Linked DNA regions of Homo sapiens: region 2 is linked to region 1. Evidence: fine-mapped expression QTL. Tissue or cell type: whole blood. Region 1 holds a variant in brackets; the other region holds the start of a gene. All regions are shown on one strand. Distances are from middle to middle.

Region 1 (8,101 bases):
AATGAGAGCCGGGGAGTAGTCAACCAGGAGGGCGCTGGCGGGTCTGGGGAGGGTGCGGAGTGTAGAAGCTGGAATAGGACTTTGTGGTGAGGGGTTAGAATGGGTGGGTTTAGGGAATGGCCAGGTGATGACATCAGCAGCCTGGAAGGGCAGCGGCCAGCCACCCTGTCCACGACTGAGCCTCGGCTCTCCTGAGGCTAGGTAAGACTCCCCTTTATGGGACGCAGTGTCAGGGCCCAGAAGAAGCACTTCAGAGCAGCACCTTTGCCTCTGTTTCAGGATCGCTGGTGACACAGCCCTCAACAAAAACATCCACGAGTCCGTCAGCGCCCAGATCCGGAAAAACTTTGCCAAGAGCAAATGGAGAGTAAGTGTGGAGTATATGAAATTCCCCGTGGATTAACCCCCTCGTGACACTGGCCCTCCAATCTGAGCATTTCTGAAATCCCCAGAACCTCACCTGAATAATTTTGCTAATTTTAACTGCAAGTAATAAAGACTCAGAGGGAATATTATGGTGTAAGAGGGATGGAGTGTGCAATTCAACACTTCCCCTCTGTGATCAAAGACAGCAATAGTGCCAGCTCTTCCTCATCTGCTGTTTCTTAACCAACATCACCCTTGTCTTTCTTCACCTTGCTAGAACTTTGAATAGCTGACTTTTATTAAAGCGATATGGAGGGGGAAAAAACAGGAAATCTGAGTTGTACTCATCAATGTTTCCTGATAAAAGTTTGACAGATTTAAACCATGGAGGTTTTGTGATCATCTGTTGATTACCTGACTTCCTAATCTCTTGATTACCTGACCTCCCCTCCGTGTTCCAATCAGCAATGGCAATTCAGAGCTAGCTATTTTGCCATGAGGGCCAATGGTGAAAGATGAGACGGAAACAAAATTAATTTTGCTGGCCTGCTGTATTCATAGGACATGCTATCATTAGGTTGGCGCAAAAGTAGTTGTGGTTTCTTCCATTAAAATTGCCATTACTTTTGCACCAACCTAAATCTTTCAGACAAAAGTACCAATACTAGGAAAATAAAAACTATTTTCAAATCTCACATTTTTAAGGTATTATAATATGCCTTTTATTCTAAAGGCCACATCTCTTAAATTACAGAGAGAATTGGTTTATGTTTATTCTATGTATTTATGATGTCAGAAGAAAACTATTTTAAGTCTCTAAAATATTTAGTTGGGGAAAGGGGTTAATAAATCAGTGCACTTTTAGAAGAAGGGACAACATAAGCTTTCCTTCTTGAGTAGCATGAGAATGATGTAAGGAGTTTGAAATGCTTAGGCTAATGTGATAAACAAGAGAACACAGTTAGAGTCTTTTCCGATTAGCTGAAATATTTGTCTGCTTTTTTCCTTTCTGAAATTTCAGCAAGCATTTAATGCCACGGCCGTCGTCAGACATATGAGAAAACTACACCTCGGCAGCAGCCTGGACAGTTCAAATGCAAGTGTTTCGAGCAGCCTCAGTTTGGCCAGCCAAAAAGACTGTGCGTATGTAGCAAAACCAGAATCCCTCAGCTGACACTGAAGACGAGCCTGGGGTGGAGAGGAGGGAGCCGGCATCTGCCGAGCACCTCCTGTTTGCCAGGCGCTTTCTATACTTAATCCCATGTCATGCGACCCTAGGACTTTTTTTAACATGTAATCACTGGGCTGGGTGCAGTGGCTCACGCCTGTAATCCCAACACTTTGGGAGGCTGAGGCAGGAGGACTGTTTGAGTTCAGGAGTTTTAAGACCAGCCTGACCAACATGGTGAAACCCCATCTCTACTAAAATATAAAAATTAGCCGGGTGTGGTGGCGAGCACCTGTAATGTCAGCTACTTGGGAGGCTGAGGCAGGAGAATCACTTGAACCCAGGAAGCGGAGGTTGCAATGAGCTGAGATCACACCACTGCACTCCAGCCTGGGTGACAGATTGAGACTCCCTCTCAAAAAAAAAAAAGAAAAATCATTGAACACTCGTGGAACCCTAGGTATTGCTATTTCCATTTACAGTTGAGGAATCCAGGGCTCAAGTCCTCGCAGCCATGTCTGTCTGGATAAAGGCCTGGACTCTTTCTCATCTCCATCCTTCCCTCTGATTTACCTCTCATTGTACAGTCACTCTTGCGGATTGAGGAAGGGAGAGCAGAGCCTCAGGACAGCCTCCTGCCATTGACTTCCATAATGTATATATTTTGGATGCAGACAATGATAATTTGAGCTCATTTATGTGAAGTGCATTGACTTTGCAATAAAAGTAATAGTATTTCATTGTCCTTCGTCTTTGCATGGGCTATTCCATCATCGAAGGCACACTTACTCTCTCCTTATCTCTCTCCCCAACTGCTCCTCTCTCTGTGGAAATAATCCCGTTTGGCCCTTCCCATGGGTCCTCTCCACATCAGAGCAGTGGCCCTAATCTCCCTAACCATGGAGCAGCCCTGCAGCCTGGTCTCACCCTGGGCATCATGCTCCTTCCCATTTGGCTCAGAAAAGGATTCCCTTCCTCTCTAAGGAATCTTCCCATCTCATTTGGGACCATCCAGCCCTTAAATTTTCCCAAGAAATCTCTGTGAGTGTCCCCTGACATACCATAGCTCCCCTTTCACCCTGAATCTTTTCCACCCTCTGGTCAAAGGGAACCCCACGATGGATCCCTTCTTTACAGATTCATACACTGGCATCGGCAGCAAAGCCCGTCGGGAGCACTCCTTGTATGGCTGTTTGTCCCCATGTCTGAGCACACAGACTCCCTGGGGGCCTGCACCAACAAGCTCAGTGGCGGCTGAGGCCTCTCATATCAAGGCTTTTGATGCCTGCACATCCTCTGGGGGAGGGCTTCAGCGCAGCCTCTGAGGAGCTCCACTAGGCCAGGGACTGCTGAGCTCACACAGGAATAGGTGAACATCTCTATTCTTGCTCTTTTTTCTTTTCTTTTTGCTTTCCTTTCTTTTTCTTTCCCTCCTTTATTTCCCTCCTTCCCTCTCTCTTCTCTCTTTTCTTTTCCCTCCCTGCCTCCCTCCTTCCTTTCCTTCCTTCTTTCCTTCCCTCCCTCCCTTCTTTCTTTCTTTTTCTTTCCTTCTCTTTCTTTTCTTTTTCTTTCTTTCTTTCTCTCTCTTTTTCTTTTCTTTCTTTCTCTCTCTTCTCTTCCTTCCTTCCTTCTTCCTTTCTTTCTTTCTCTTTCTTTCTTTTTCTTTCCCTTCCTTCCTTCCTTTCTTCTTTCTCTCTTTCTTTCCTTCCTTCCTTCCTTCTTTCTTTCTTTCTTTTCTTTCTTTGTCTGTCTGTCTTTCTTTCTTTCTTTCTTTCTTTCTTTCTTTCTTTCTTTCTTTCTTTCTTTCTTTCTTTCTTTCTTTTCTTGTCTTTCTTCTCCTCTCCTCCACTAACCTGCCCTGCCCTGCCCTGCCTTGCCCTGCCTTCCCCTCCCCTCCTCTCTCCTCTCTCCTCTCTCCCCTCTCCCCTCTCCTCTCTCCTCTCTCCCTTCTCCCCTCTCCTTTCTCCTCTCTCCTCTCTCTTCTTCTCTCTTTCTCTCACTCTCTGTCACCCAGACTGGAGTGCAGTGGCACAGTCACGGCTCACTGCAACCTCAACCTCCTAGGCTCAAGTAATCCTCCTGTCTCAGCCTTCTGAGTAGCTGGGACAACAGGCATGTACCACCGTGCGCAGCTAATTTTTGTATTTTTTGTAGACCCAGGGTTGCCCCAGCTGGTCTGGAACTCCTGAGACTCAAGCGATCCACCCACCTTGGCCTCCCAAAGTGTTGAGATTACAGGCGTCAGCCACCATACCCTTATTTCAAAGTGCTCTGCGTCACAAAATGCTTTCTAGCCAAGAGTGTACACAACACACCAACCAAGGGTAGGAAGGTAGTATCATTCTTTATTCCTTCTTAAAATACCTGCTTTACAGAGCTATTATAAGAAGTGGACAATTCGTATGATGACAGTATGTAGTCAACACTAGCCTGGTGCCTGCTACATATTAAGTGCTCAGTACATGGAACCTGTTGTACCACAGTGGTGAAACCATGTTGTTTTCAAACACAAAGCAGTTAAAATTACACCAAAAAAAAGGAGAGGAGAGGTCTAAGAATAAAGCATTTTGAACCCATTGCAAAGGCTTTCCCACAGGTAGGTAAAAATAGTCACACGGGTAAAAATTTGGGTCCCCGCAAGTTGGGCGCGGTGGCTCACACCCGTAATCCCAGCACTTTGGGAGGCTGAGGTGGGTGGATCACCTGAGGTCAGGAGTTCGAGACCAGCCTGGCCAACATGGTGAAACCCCATCTCTACTAAAAATACAAAAATTAGCCCGGCGTGGTGGTGAGCCCCTGTAATCCCAGCTACTCGGGAGGCTGAAGCACGAGAATCGCTTGAACCTGGCAGGCAGAGGTTGCAGTGACCCGAGATCGTGCCACTGCACTCCAGCCTGGTGAAAAGAGTGAAACTCCATCTCAAGAAAAAAAAAAAATTGGGCCCCCCCGCCCCCCACCATAAACCCAGCCCCTCTGACACCTGGCAGTGGGAAGCAGGGTGAGAATTTACCTCTGAAACTCTGAAGCCCACTTCTGCTGTTCCCTGCAGGTCTGGCACCTTCCACGCTCTGTAGTTTCATTTCTTCTTCGTCGGGGGTCTCAGGAGTTGGAGCCGAGCGGAGACCCAGGCCCACCACTGTGACGGCAGTGCACTCTGGAAGCAAGTGACTGGCCCTGGAGGTGGGGCCCGGGGTCGGGGCTGGGGAAGGGGAGCCCCAGGGTCGCCAGAGCCGCGAGCCACTCCAGCGAGACCCCACCTTGCATGGTGCCCCTTCCTGCATAGGACTGGAAGACCGAAGTTTTTTTATGGCCATATTTTCTACTGCAATTCTGAAGTGTTCATTTCTCACAAACTGTACTGACTCGAGGGGCGCTGATTTCATAGGATCTGGTGCTGTATATACGAATCTTGCAAAGCTCTAACTGAACGGACCTTCTTATTCCTCTC[C/T]CCTAACACCATCGTTTCCACTCTTCTCAGTGTAGGTAACCGTCTATGGTGTGTTTTTTCATTAATGACAAAAAAAAAAAGGTTTCAACTGGATTATTTAAATATTGGTAAATATTGTGCATTAGGGTTTGTTTTTCCTTTTAAGAAGTATGTCCTTTGTATCTCTAAGTTACATGACCTATATCTTTTCCTCTTTAATAGTAGTTTTATGTTAACCTTTAAGAGATTTGTTTTTCCTCAAAGGAGAATTTAAAGGTATTTTTTAAAATTCTAATAAGAGGATCAGCCGGGTGCAATGACTCATGCCTGTAATCCCAGCACGTTGGGAGGCCAAGTCGGGCGGATCACAAGGTCAGGAGATCAAGGCCATCCTGGCCAACATGGTGAAACCCCACGTCTACTAAAAATACAAAAAATTAGCCGGGCGTGGTGGCACACACCTGTAGTCCCGGCTACTCGGGAGGCTGAGGCAGGAGAATTGCTTGAACCCGGGAGACGGAGGTTGCAGTGAGCTGAGATCGTGCCACTGCACTCCAGCCTGGGTGACAGAGCAAGACTCTGTCTCAAAAAAAAAAAAAAAAATTCTAACAAGAGGATCATGAATCTGTCTCCAAGGCTAAGAGTGCCCTTCACCTCTACTCCTTCTGTTTCTCTCCCCTTCCCCAGGAGGAGGGGCCCCTCAGTTCTGCGAGGCTCTCTTCTCTGCGGGGGACTTTGGTAGAGAATCTGCACAGAGCCTTTGCTGGCAACCCATCCAGCAGAACCCACACCCACCAGAGACCCTAGAGGCCTCTTGCCATCAGCAACCAGAAATAAGCCTGCTCCCCCGAGACGCAGGGCTCAGCTTCACAGGCCAGACTTGCTGTGAGTGAGATGCCCACACTGCAGAGATGCAGGACCCTCCCTTGCAAAAGGAACCAGCTGCCATGTTGCTGAAAGTGGGCCCACACACAACCCTCATTTCTCACGAGAGCTAACAGATGAAAGCTCAGCTATGCAGTGTTAAAATTCATCTCTTTCTCTGTGGTTTTTAAAAAAATGCATTTCTAATCTTACACTTCACGTGGCCTCCAACACAAAGTTCTTTCTCCACATTTTTACCCTCTTCTCACATGAATGTTTTCCAAGGGAAGGAAGGGAGGGAAGCAGCCTTGGGAAAGGATCCATTTCTGGTGGTAAGGAGAGGGGGCCCTGCCAGGCTAATGGGACTTCAGCCACCACAGAGATGACCAAAGACCACCTCCGCCAGGCCCAGCCAGTGCTTGCAGCCCTCCCATTGGTCAGGGGAGTCTAAAATCAAAGATACATGGTGGTAGGGTCACCAAACGTCCCATTTGCCCGAGACTGAAGGATTTCTCAGGCTGTGGACATTTAATGCCAAAACCAGGAATATCCGGGGCAAAGCAGGCTGTGTTGTTCGCCTTTGTGGAGCCAGGCAGTGTGTGGCCCAGGGAAAGCTGCGTTTCATGGAGGCTTCCAGGAGGCTGCCCTGTAAAGCCAGGCAGGTGGCTTCAAGTGCCATTCCTGCAAGTGCCCCTGCTTCAGCTCTCAGGCCCATCCAATGCCTCGAGCCCACGGGGGTGTCCCGGCAGGTCTGCGTCATCACGACCCAGTAACGCTGCTGGCTGTGTCCTCATGCCCTCTTCCTCTGGCTGGCCAGTCATGGGAAGTCCTGTTGGTTGAGTCATCTTTGTCACTTCTACACCTTTGAGTATGTACAGGCTGAATGTTGAGTGATGCCCCCCCACCCTCTCAATAAACACACACACACACACACACACACACACACACACACACAATGTTATTAGGCACAGCAGCTCCATCCTGCTCCCTGAGAATGGCAGTGCAGGCACAGAGAAGAGCAGTTGGGAAGACAGGCAGCTGGTCTACCCTGTCCCCGCACACTTCACAGGCACTCCACTGCTTGGCAGGAATTCTGCATGGCATCTGCCACGCATGCTCACAGGGTGAAAAATCAAGCTGTCACTCTGCAAAATCTAAAAACCCTGGAAAGGTCTATAAGATGACATTAGACCCAGTTAAGAAGCAAGTGTCACCTGAGTTGGCCATGCAATGAATGAATATTATAAGCAGTATTGGAGAACTAGGCGGTTGCTTACTAAGAAGTGTCTTGGAAACATTCGAGTTCATACAGTGCATGACAAAGTAATAGAAGGCTGCAAGCGCTGAAAATGCACCCGAATCTGGTACCTAGGATGAGTACATGAATAGTGATGAATAGCCCTTTGTGCTGTGTGCTATATACAACCATTTGCATTCAGAAAGCAGCATTTGAAGCTGAGTTCCATTACTGGTGATTGAAGTATTTTCAGGAGCAGATACATGTGGTGCATGTTATATGCACTTAGTTTGAAAGTATCCCTCACCCAAAAAGTGCAGAACCTCTGAAAGGTGAGCCGTGGTGCAGGTGCCCCCCTCGCTGTTCGGGTCAGTTCTTGGCCATGCTTGGCCTGTCACACGCCGGGTCTCAACAACATCGTGCGAGGAGACAGTGACTGGTTTCAGCCCAAGAGTCAACTGTTGAGCATGACATCAGGAAGCCTGTACTGTCCTGATCCCACCAGGCTTGGGTTAATTTCCTATTGCTTCAGAGAAAGAGAGGCGCTCTTGTGCTTTTGAGAGAGCTCTCATGTTAAAAAGAGGTTGTCTTTGCACTGCGCTTGGTATGATTTGTTTTCTTATAAAACAGGAAGAGAACCTAGAATGTGCCTTTCGTGAAGGTCTGACAAATGGGGTCTCAGAGTCCTAGGACCCGCACCAAGGTCAGAGTCCACCTGTAGAGGCTGAGCATTTCTACATGCACCCAGGGTGCTGGGCTGAGGCTAAGGGTGGACGCGTAGACCCCATCACAGGCTTCCTTCCTGAGCCCAAGTCCCCCATTTGGTCACTATCCCTTCTCAGAGCAAGTGGATTCTCTTTTCCTCACTTGGAGTATTCAATGTTGAAGTAGTGGCCTGGAGTGGCCTTTCCCTCAGCTGCCTGTCTGGGCTCCCTGGCTTCCCGGATCTTCATCTCATACGTGAGGCAATAGGAGGAGTTTCTATTCATTGAGACAAACAGTGAGCGGGCACCAACAGGCCAGCAGCTTGGCCCTTTTC
Region 2 (8,099 bases), 480 kb before region 1:
CCTGGGTGGTGGAGGTTACAGTGAGCTGAGATCACCGCACTCTACCGTGGCGACAGAGCAAGAATTTGTCTTAAAAAAAAAAAAAAGAAAATAAAGAAAAAAAAGAAGTATGCTTTTTCTTGAGGACCTCGTCCAGCTTAGAATAGCTTGATAATGCCAAATGAACATCATTACAGAAAGTCTGGAAAAGAAATAAAGCTCCCTACAGCAGTTCCACCAGTACAACAAATACCAAATAGCGGTCTTAACTCGATTTCATTTCTTTCTTTTTTTTTTTTTTTGAACAGAATATCACTCTGTTGACCAGGCTGGAGTGCAGTGGCATGATCTCGGCTCACTGCAACCTCTGCCTCCTGGGTTCAAGTGATTCTCCTGCCTCAGCCTCCTGAGTAGCTGGGATACAGGCGCACACCACCACGCCCGGCTAATTTTTGTAGTTTTAGCAGAGACAGGGTTTCACCATGTTGGCCGGGCTGGTCTCATACTCCTGATCTTAGGTGATCCGCCTGCCTCTGCCTCTTAAAGTGCTGGCATTTTACAGGCGTGAGCTGCCACGCCTGGCCTCAATTTCATTTCTTTATCCATTCGACACACATTTACAGATCAGTCAGTATGGGTAGGTTACCGTGTCAGGTGCTGGGAAACAGTGGCGAGAAAGTTAACAGGTGCCTTGCTCTCATGGAGCTTATAGCCTGGTAGGAAAAGTCACGGCCACAGGCCACGTGGAAGTTCTCATTTGCTTTCCCTTCATCTTTACTGTTCCTGTAAAATTGCCTTCTTTCTTTTTTTCTAATGGTTATTTTTATAGATTTAGGGGTACAAGTGCAGTTTTGTTACATGGATATATTGCGTAGTGGTGAGGTCTGGGCTTTTAGCTTAACCATCACCAGAATAGGGTACACCATGCCCATTAGTTAATTTCTCATCCCTTCCCCTACCCCACTCCAATGTCATTATTCCACACTCTCTGTCCACATATACACATTATTTAGCTCCCACTTCTTCTCCTTTTTTTTTTTTTGAGATGGAGTCTTGCTCTGTCGCCAGGCTGGAGTGCAATGGTGCAATCTTCGCTCACTGCAACCTCCTAGGTTACAGTGATTCTCCTGCCTCAGCCTCCTGAGTAGCTGGGATTACAGGCATGTGCCACCATGCCTGGCTAATTTTTATTTTTAATAGAGTTTCACCATGTTGGCCAGGCTGGTCTTGAACTCCTGACCTCAGGTGATCCACTGGCCTAGGCCTCCCAAAGTGCTGGGATTACAGGCGTGAGCCACCATGCCTAGCCTTAGCTCTCACTTCTAAGTGAGAACATGTGGTATTTGACTTTCTGTTTCTGAGTTATTTCACCTAAGATAATGGCCTTCAGTTCCAACTGCGTTGCTGCAAAAGACATGATTTCATTCTTTTTTATGGCCGGGTAGTAGAGAATCAGCACTTCTTCAGCTGTGGGGATAATAGCTGAGAATGAGAATTGTTTTCATGAGCTCTGGCGGCTGTTCCTGAGGCCAGGCAGCAAGGGCAACATAGCAGAGAACCAAATAGGAAAAGAGGAGAAGGAAACACAGTGGGAGGAAGGGAAGGAGAAAGAAAGGACAAGAAGATGCTGACTGTAGGCATGAGAAAGCGACAGTTGGGATCTTAGTTGACTTATGCCCTGGTTCCCACTGTTTGTATTATCTAACCTTTGGCACAAGTAAAATACATGATAGTTTTTCAAATGTTTCTTATTGAAGGGGATGCTGTTTGCCTTGAACTTTGGTAATGTGCCTCAAGTATAAGAGAGGTTCCTTAGTAATTCTTCTCACCCATCCGTGTTGGAAATTGGGTTTGTGGATTTATTCTACATCTAACCGGCAAGTAAATCCCCTCTTTGCTCTTCTCAGTTTGGAAAACCTTAAGCTAACCGTCTTTGAAAGATGGAAACTAGCATGGAGGTCCCAGGAATGGGGATGCCAGGGTGTCGTCTGACCTCTTTAGGGTCAGAGTAGGGGCTGAGGGAGAGCAGCTGGGCTGCCTCCACTTCAGCCAGAGTCAGAACTAGGCACAAGGTGCTGGATGAAGTTTCCTATTCAGGGAGCAGATTTTTTTTTTCCTTTTACAGTGAAATTGGAACAGTCCTGGGAAAATGGGACAGGTGTCCCCAGTCAAGAGACAGAGCTGTTTACCCAACTACGAGGAGAGGCCCTGAGGGAGGCGAAGTGTTGATACCAAGAAATCTAAAATTTTCCGATCAAGAGGTCGCCCCTGCAGGTTGGGGACCAGGGAACTGGAGCACGTGGGCTGCCCTCTGACAGGTGGACACCAGGAGTGGGGCGGGCAGGCCAAAGTACAGCTGGGAGATGGGAGTCCGGAGGGAATTCTCTGGGTTAGTTTTGGCAGTCCATAGGAAAGCAGGTGCCTGCCCCGCAACCCGGACACCCTACTAAGCCAGCCGCGGGTGGGCTCCTCCTTCGAGGGGACTGCGGGGCAGACGATCACTTCTTTCCACTGAGTCTCTGGGAGGAGACAGGGAGATGCCAGAAGGGGCCAAGCGTGAGCCAGGGCAACCAGGCCGGCCAGGCCCGCCGGCCGCTCCAGCCCAGCACCAGGGCGCCCGCGCGGCTGCCAAACACCCCCGGGAGTTTTGCTCGCAAAGGGACCACGAGGCAGCTGCTGGCGCGTCCTGCGCGTACCCGCCCAGAGGCTCCCCGGCTTGCTCCTCGCGGGTCTGTCCCGAAACTGACGTGAAACCGATTTGGTGCAATGCGAATGAGCTCCCGCCCGCCTCCGCCTCCATCCCAGCCGCCGCCGCCGCCCGTCGCCATAACAACCGGCCCCCACCCCCCCCACCCCACGCCTTGCCCCTCGGGTCCCCCGGGCCACAGGCCACAGCGCGGGAAGGCGCCCCGCCCTCGGCGCCCCGCATCCGGCCGCCGCGCACCCCCGCCCGCCCGGCGCTTCCGAGCCACGCAGAGGCGCCCCCTCCCGCCGGAGACGGGAAAGCCCCGGCGCCCCCAGACTGGGCTCCGTTTCCAGCTCCCGGAGGGGCTGGGGCTCTCCCGCGTGCGCCCCGCACCTGCCGGGGGCCCGTACCCGCCCTCGCCGGGGCTCCAGGGGGCACGACGGCCGTGGCCCGGCGCTCTTGGGAGGGGAGCGGGACATCCCCGAAGGCGGCGCGCTGGAGGCGGGGAGCGGCCGGGGCGCACGGAGAGGGCGGGGAGCCCGCGGGAGGGGGAGGAGGGGGAGGAGGGGGAGGAGGCGCGAGGTGGGGGGGAGCGCGGCGGGCGGCAGGGAGGGAGCGGGAGGGAGGCAAGAAAGTAGCAGAAAGTGAGGCTGGCAGGCGGCGGCAAAGGAGCCGGCGCGCGGCGGCGGCAGGAAGTCTGTGCCCGAGAACAGCAGAAATAAGAGCCAGGGAGGGACCGCGGCCGCGGCGGCGGCGGCGAGAGCGAAAGAGGAAACTGCAGAGGAGGAAGCTGCGCCGCAGCCCGAGCCGCCCGGCATCCCCGCCGCCTCTGCGCCCGCGCCGCGCCCCCGGCGCCCCCTCCCCAGCGCGCCCCCGGCCGCTCCTCCGCGCCGCGCTCGTCGGCCATGGCCCGGGAGAACGGCGAGAGCAGCTCCTCCTGGAAAAAGCAAGCTGAAGACATCAAGAAGATCTTCGAGTTCAAAGAGACCCTCGGAACGTAAGTGGGGACCGGGGAGGCGAGGGTGGAGGTGGCCGCGGCAGGGGCTGCACGGGCAGCTCCAGCTGCCGCCGCCGCCACTACCGCGGCAGAAACCCAGCCTGTCACCGCGTCCTCATTGTCCCGTTCTCGGCGCTGCGGAGCCCCCCCGAGCGCGCCCGACGCGTGGGCCTGCGACCCCCGGGTGGGCGCCGTTCCCGGGAGGGGGAGGGGGCAGCGCCGGGCTGTCAGGGAGCAGCCCACGCGGGCGCGCGACTTCCCACTTCTCCTGCCACCGCCGCCCTCTCCGCTGCCTTCTCCCCACGCGTGACTGTGGGCTGAGCATGGTGGGGATGGCTGTTTACCGGCTGTGTGCGTTTACTCGCCGTGTGCATGGGCGCACCGCGTTGGCGAGACGTGGTCACGAGAAGATCAGCCTCCAGTCGTTCCCATTTCTGTCCTTACATCATGTATTTCTATGGAATTGGCATCTGCACGTACGAGGTGTAGGCAAGACTTTGGGTGGCCACGCGAGGATGGAAGGGAAGGGCTTCGCAGTGCTCAGGGTCACACGTGGGCAGAGCCTCACCGGAGGGTCTGTGCATTTCACGCGGGCTCGGCCGCACGCGCCGGGGAGCGCGTCTCCAAGGGAGGGTCTGTGCGCGTCGCTGCGCGGGCGGTGCTCTCTCCGGGCTGCATCGAGTCCCATGCTGATGGCTGTGTCTCAAGAAAGCAGAAATAATCCGAAGTCGATGGCAGGAACGCTCCAAGCATGTGCTGCTCAGCTCAGCTGCTGTTCCCTTTCTGCCCAGGAGTTGGGTCTTGTTTGTTTTGTTTCGGAGCGGCTCAGAATAGGTGGGGAGGCTGATAGTGAAAGAGAATCAGGACCTGCCGAATGAGTCTGAAGTTCAAGTTATTTCCTTCCCTCACACAATCAGTATTTGCTCTGCATCAGTATCTGTCAGTGTGGATTCACGCACAGGTGTGCAGTCAGAAATGCCCATTTTGCAGGGGTTCATGGAGGTGTTGATTAGGCTGGGAAGAGAAAGGGGAGCTATTTCATGGGATAAATCAGTGCGTTGTTGGGTGCCCTTTCTTTCCTTCCTCCTTTTTTTCCGTGTGCTTGTTTTTGTGCTTGGTTTCTTTTTTCCAGCACCACATTACCCAGCTTGTCTTCACCTCCAGGCTCGGCGTCTGCTGCTGTTCAGTCATTTCCCCTCACCCCCACGCAGATCTGCAGGGGGTCCCCCGGAGAGAAGTTGTGAGGGTGGCTTTCCCAGTCCTGCTTCTGATTCCCGGGAAGGCGCACGCTGAGGACTAGAGTGGGGTCTCCCTGCTGTGGTTGTTGCCTTTCAGGGAGGGCACCTATTTGCTATCTTTGTTGGAATGAAAACAGAAAAAGATGTAGCTTTTTAATAAATAGGGGTTTGGGGTTGCCTCTTAGTGCAGCCAGGTAAGGGGTTAGTTTGGGTCAAAACTTTTGAAAATTGCCACTGAGGTTTATTCGGGTTTGGGGTTGTGATTCTGAGATGCTCAAGTTACTGAGAGACAAGAAAGCATGGCCTTTGCTTGTCATCCAGGACCCGCACTGTGGCCGCCAATGAGGAGATGGGAGAGCATGGGGACCCACCCTGTGTGAATGCTTTCCTGTCCGTGGCTTGTTCCCACCCGAGCCCCCCACACTGGCTTCCTGCCTGTAGCCTCCGGGTGACTGATGCCCTGTCCCCTGACTGACTCGTGCAGCTGCACCTCTGCAGTGGCGGGGCTGCTGAGGCTCCAAGCTGTGGCTCCTGCTGGAGCATGGTGTTTGGAGATGACTGTGGGTGGTTTCCACCTTGGGGAAAAATGGGGATTTGCCCTCTGGTGCCAGAGCGCTTCTCTGGCAGAACAGCCTCTTGGACTCCAGCCATGTTCCCTGTGAGCTTTGGGAATGGGTCTCTCTTAGGGTCCTAAAGCATTGCCTTCTGCCTGGGATGGAATTCTTTGCAAAGGAGCTTCCCACTGTAGCACTGGCATTGGACCTAGAAGAATGATAGAAACAGTGTGATGATCAAGATGTTTTTACTCCACATAATAATCATGGTAATCATAGGTGGTATTCTGAAATGTATACCCAGGATCAGGTATTATTCTACGTGCCTTATGTGTATTAACTCATTTAAATCTCAGAGTAACCTTATGAGGTAGGTATTTACCATTACACCCAATTTGCAGATGAGAAAACTAAGGCAGCAGAGATAATTATGTGAGCTACCAAACCTTAGCTAACTATTAAGTGGCGGAGCTGGTATTCACAGATAGGCAGAGCAACTTTTGATTGTCCATACAGGGTTGACACACTTTGTAGATCCTGTAATGGCCAATGCTTAGTCAATAATTTGACTTAACTTTAGTATTTGGAACGCGAACTTTAATATTAATGTAAAGAAAACATAATGGGCTGGGCGTGGTGGCTCACACCTGTAATCCCAACACTTTGGGAGGCTGAGGCGAGCTGATCACTTAAGTCAGGAGTTCGAGACCAGCCTGGCCAACATGGTGAAACCCTGTTGCTACTAACAATAACAAAATTAGCCGGGTGTGGTGGTGTGTGCCTATAATTCCAGCTACTCGGGAGGCTGAGGCAGGAGAATCGCTTGAACTGGGGAGGCAGAGATTTCAGTGAGTTGAGATTGCGCCACTGCCCTCCAGCCTGGGCCACAGAGTGAGACTCGGTCTCAAAAAAATAAAATAAAATAAATGAGAAAACATAATGATGGCAATAATGATAGCATAATGTTATCTAAACTTGGAAAACTTGGAAGCATTTCAGAGCTTTTGGATTGTCGTCCTTTTGCTTCTGTGGACTTTCTTTTTTTTTTTTTTGAGACGGAGTCTCACTCTGTTGCCCAGGCTGGAGTGCAGTGGCGCAATCTCGGCTCACTGCAAGCTCTGCCTCATGGGTTCACGCCATTCTCCTGTCTCAGCCTCCCGAGTAACTGGGACTACAGACGCCCGCCGCCATGCCTGGCTAATTTTTTTGTATTTTTAGTAGAGACGGGGTTTCACCGTGTTAGCCAGGATGGTCTCGATCTCCTGACCTCATGATCCGCCTGCCTCGGCCTCCCAAAGTGCTGGGATTACAGGCGTGAGCTACTGCGCCCAGCCGCCTCTGTGTACTTTCTAGAAGTGGTCCCCAGTTCAAGATGCCTGCTCCACCCTGGGCCATGACCGGTGACTCTGGCCCGAGTCTTAATGTGGAGTTGACTTCTGGTCCCTTCAGTGGGGATTTTGAGTCTGGGCCCTTCTCTTGTTTTGAATGAAATCTAACACAAATGAAAGGCATCGACAATTAACCACTGGCATTCATTTCCAAAGTATGCCGCAGTTCCAGTCACTTTGTTTGCCCTACTTTCTCCCTACGTCTTTAAGATACGAAGGCAGGAAAGCCTTGTAAGAAGCAGGGCTGTCAGCTCACAATGTTCACATGTATTTAAAATAAAGCATTGCAAAGGCTGGAGGAGCACTCATTTTGCCAGACTTTGTAATCTGATATCCACTGCCTTATCCAGGTATCTCACCTCATGGAGCCGAGCATTTACTGTTGGAAGCTAAGGGGTCAAGGCGGTTAGGCTGTATGGTTAGAGGGACCTTGCTGGAGAGTGGGGGCCGAATGGGAGTGAAGGTTGGCCCAGGAGGGTGGAAAATGAGATTGAGGAAGCAAAGAGCAGCATAAGAGAAAGGACTGGGCTTTGTGGTCTGGCCTGGGTTGTCTGATGCACCTCTGAGTCAGGTCTCAGGGACAAACCTTTCAACCTGTGCGCTTCAGTGCAGCCTCCTACAAAAGGGAATCCCAGAACATAACCATATCTCTGAATAAGGTGGTGAGACTTAATTATTGTCTATTAATCAACATGTTTTCAGACCCTTGGCACACTATGAGAACAAATAAATGTTATGTAATGGCAAATTAGGAGGGGTACACATTTCTGTTGGTGTATTTGCCAAGGCTGTTCAGGCCGTCCCTATCGTAGCTATCTTTCAGTGACTACTGAAGCAAAAAATAAAAAAACCCCTAAAATACTATTCGGAGAAGTATATGGATGGGAGGAAAGCTTCGGTGTGGTGTCTAGGAAGCACCCTAGACTCATAGAAGTCACTTCTGCAATTTCCAGGCTGTGAAATGTATGTGAATGGAAAGGCCTGGGTACTTGGCACGTGGCAGAATGAGTCTCCCAACAAACCTCATTTCCCCTGGAGTACAGAACATGGCATGCCCTAGAAAATGGATCTTCATCTCCGCGGGATATGAATGCATGTTTTTCGTGTAGACTGAGCATTTGAAGTTGAAGTTGTTCCTGTCTGTAGATGGCTGGACAAGGCATCGTGGAGGATTTGAGACTGGGTTTTAGGTCTGGTTCAGCCATGAGGGGTTTTGTGGCCTGTGGACTGCTTGGACATTGACCTACATTACCTTCT

The links. PIP is the estimated chance that this variant, and not a neighbour inherited with it, causes the effect.
Region 2: CAMK1D starts here. The variant in region 1 is fine-mapped to the expression of CAMK1D in whole blood (TOPMed, PIP above 0.99).

What each region holds. Positions count from the first base shown.
Region 1 is chr10:12,824,186-12,832,286 of GRCh38, forward strand. CAMK1D (calcium/calmodulin dependent protein kinase ID) reads left to right here. Exons shown (of 11, transcript NM_153498.4): 9 at 280-367; 10 at 1,388-1,505; 11 at 4,584-8,101. The coding sequence ends at 4,702. Among named protein-coding and RNA genes, the nearest start is that of MIR548Q, 100 kb to the left of the region's middle. The variant C/T (reference allele first, on the strand shown) is at 4,983.
Region 2 is chr10:12,346,249-12,354,347 of GRCh38, forward strand. It overlaps CAMK1D (calcium/calmodulin dependent protein kinase ID), which reads left to right and starts at 3,299. Exons shown (of 11, transcript NM_153498.4): 1 at 3,299-3,662. The coding sequence starts at 3,571. RefSeq lists silencers at 2,458-2,717, 2,758-3,317, 3,488-3,577 and enhancers at 3,614-4,113, 4,288-4,447.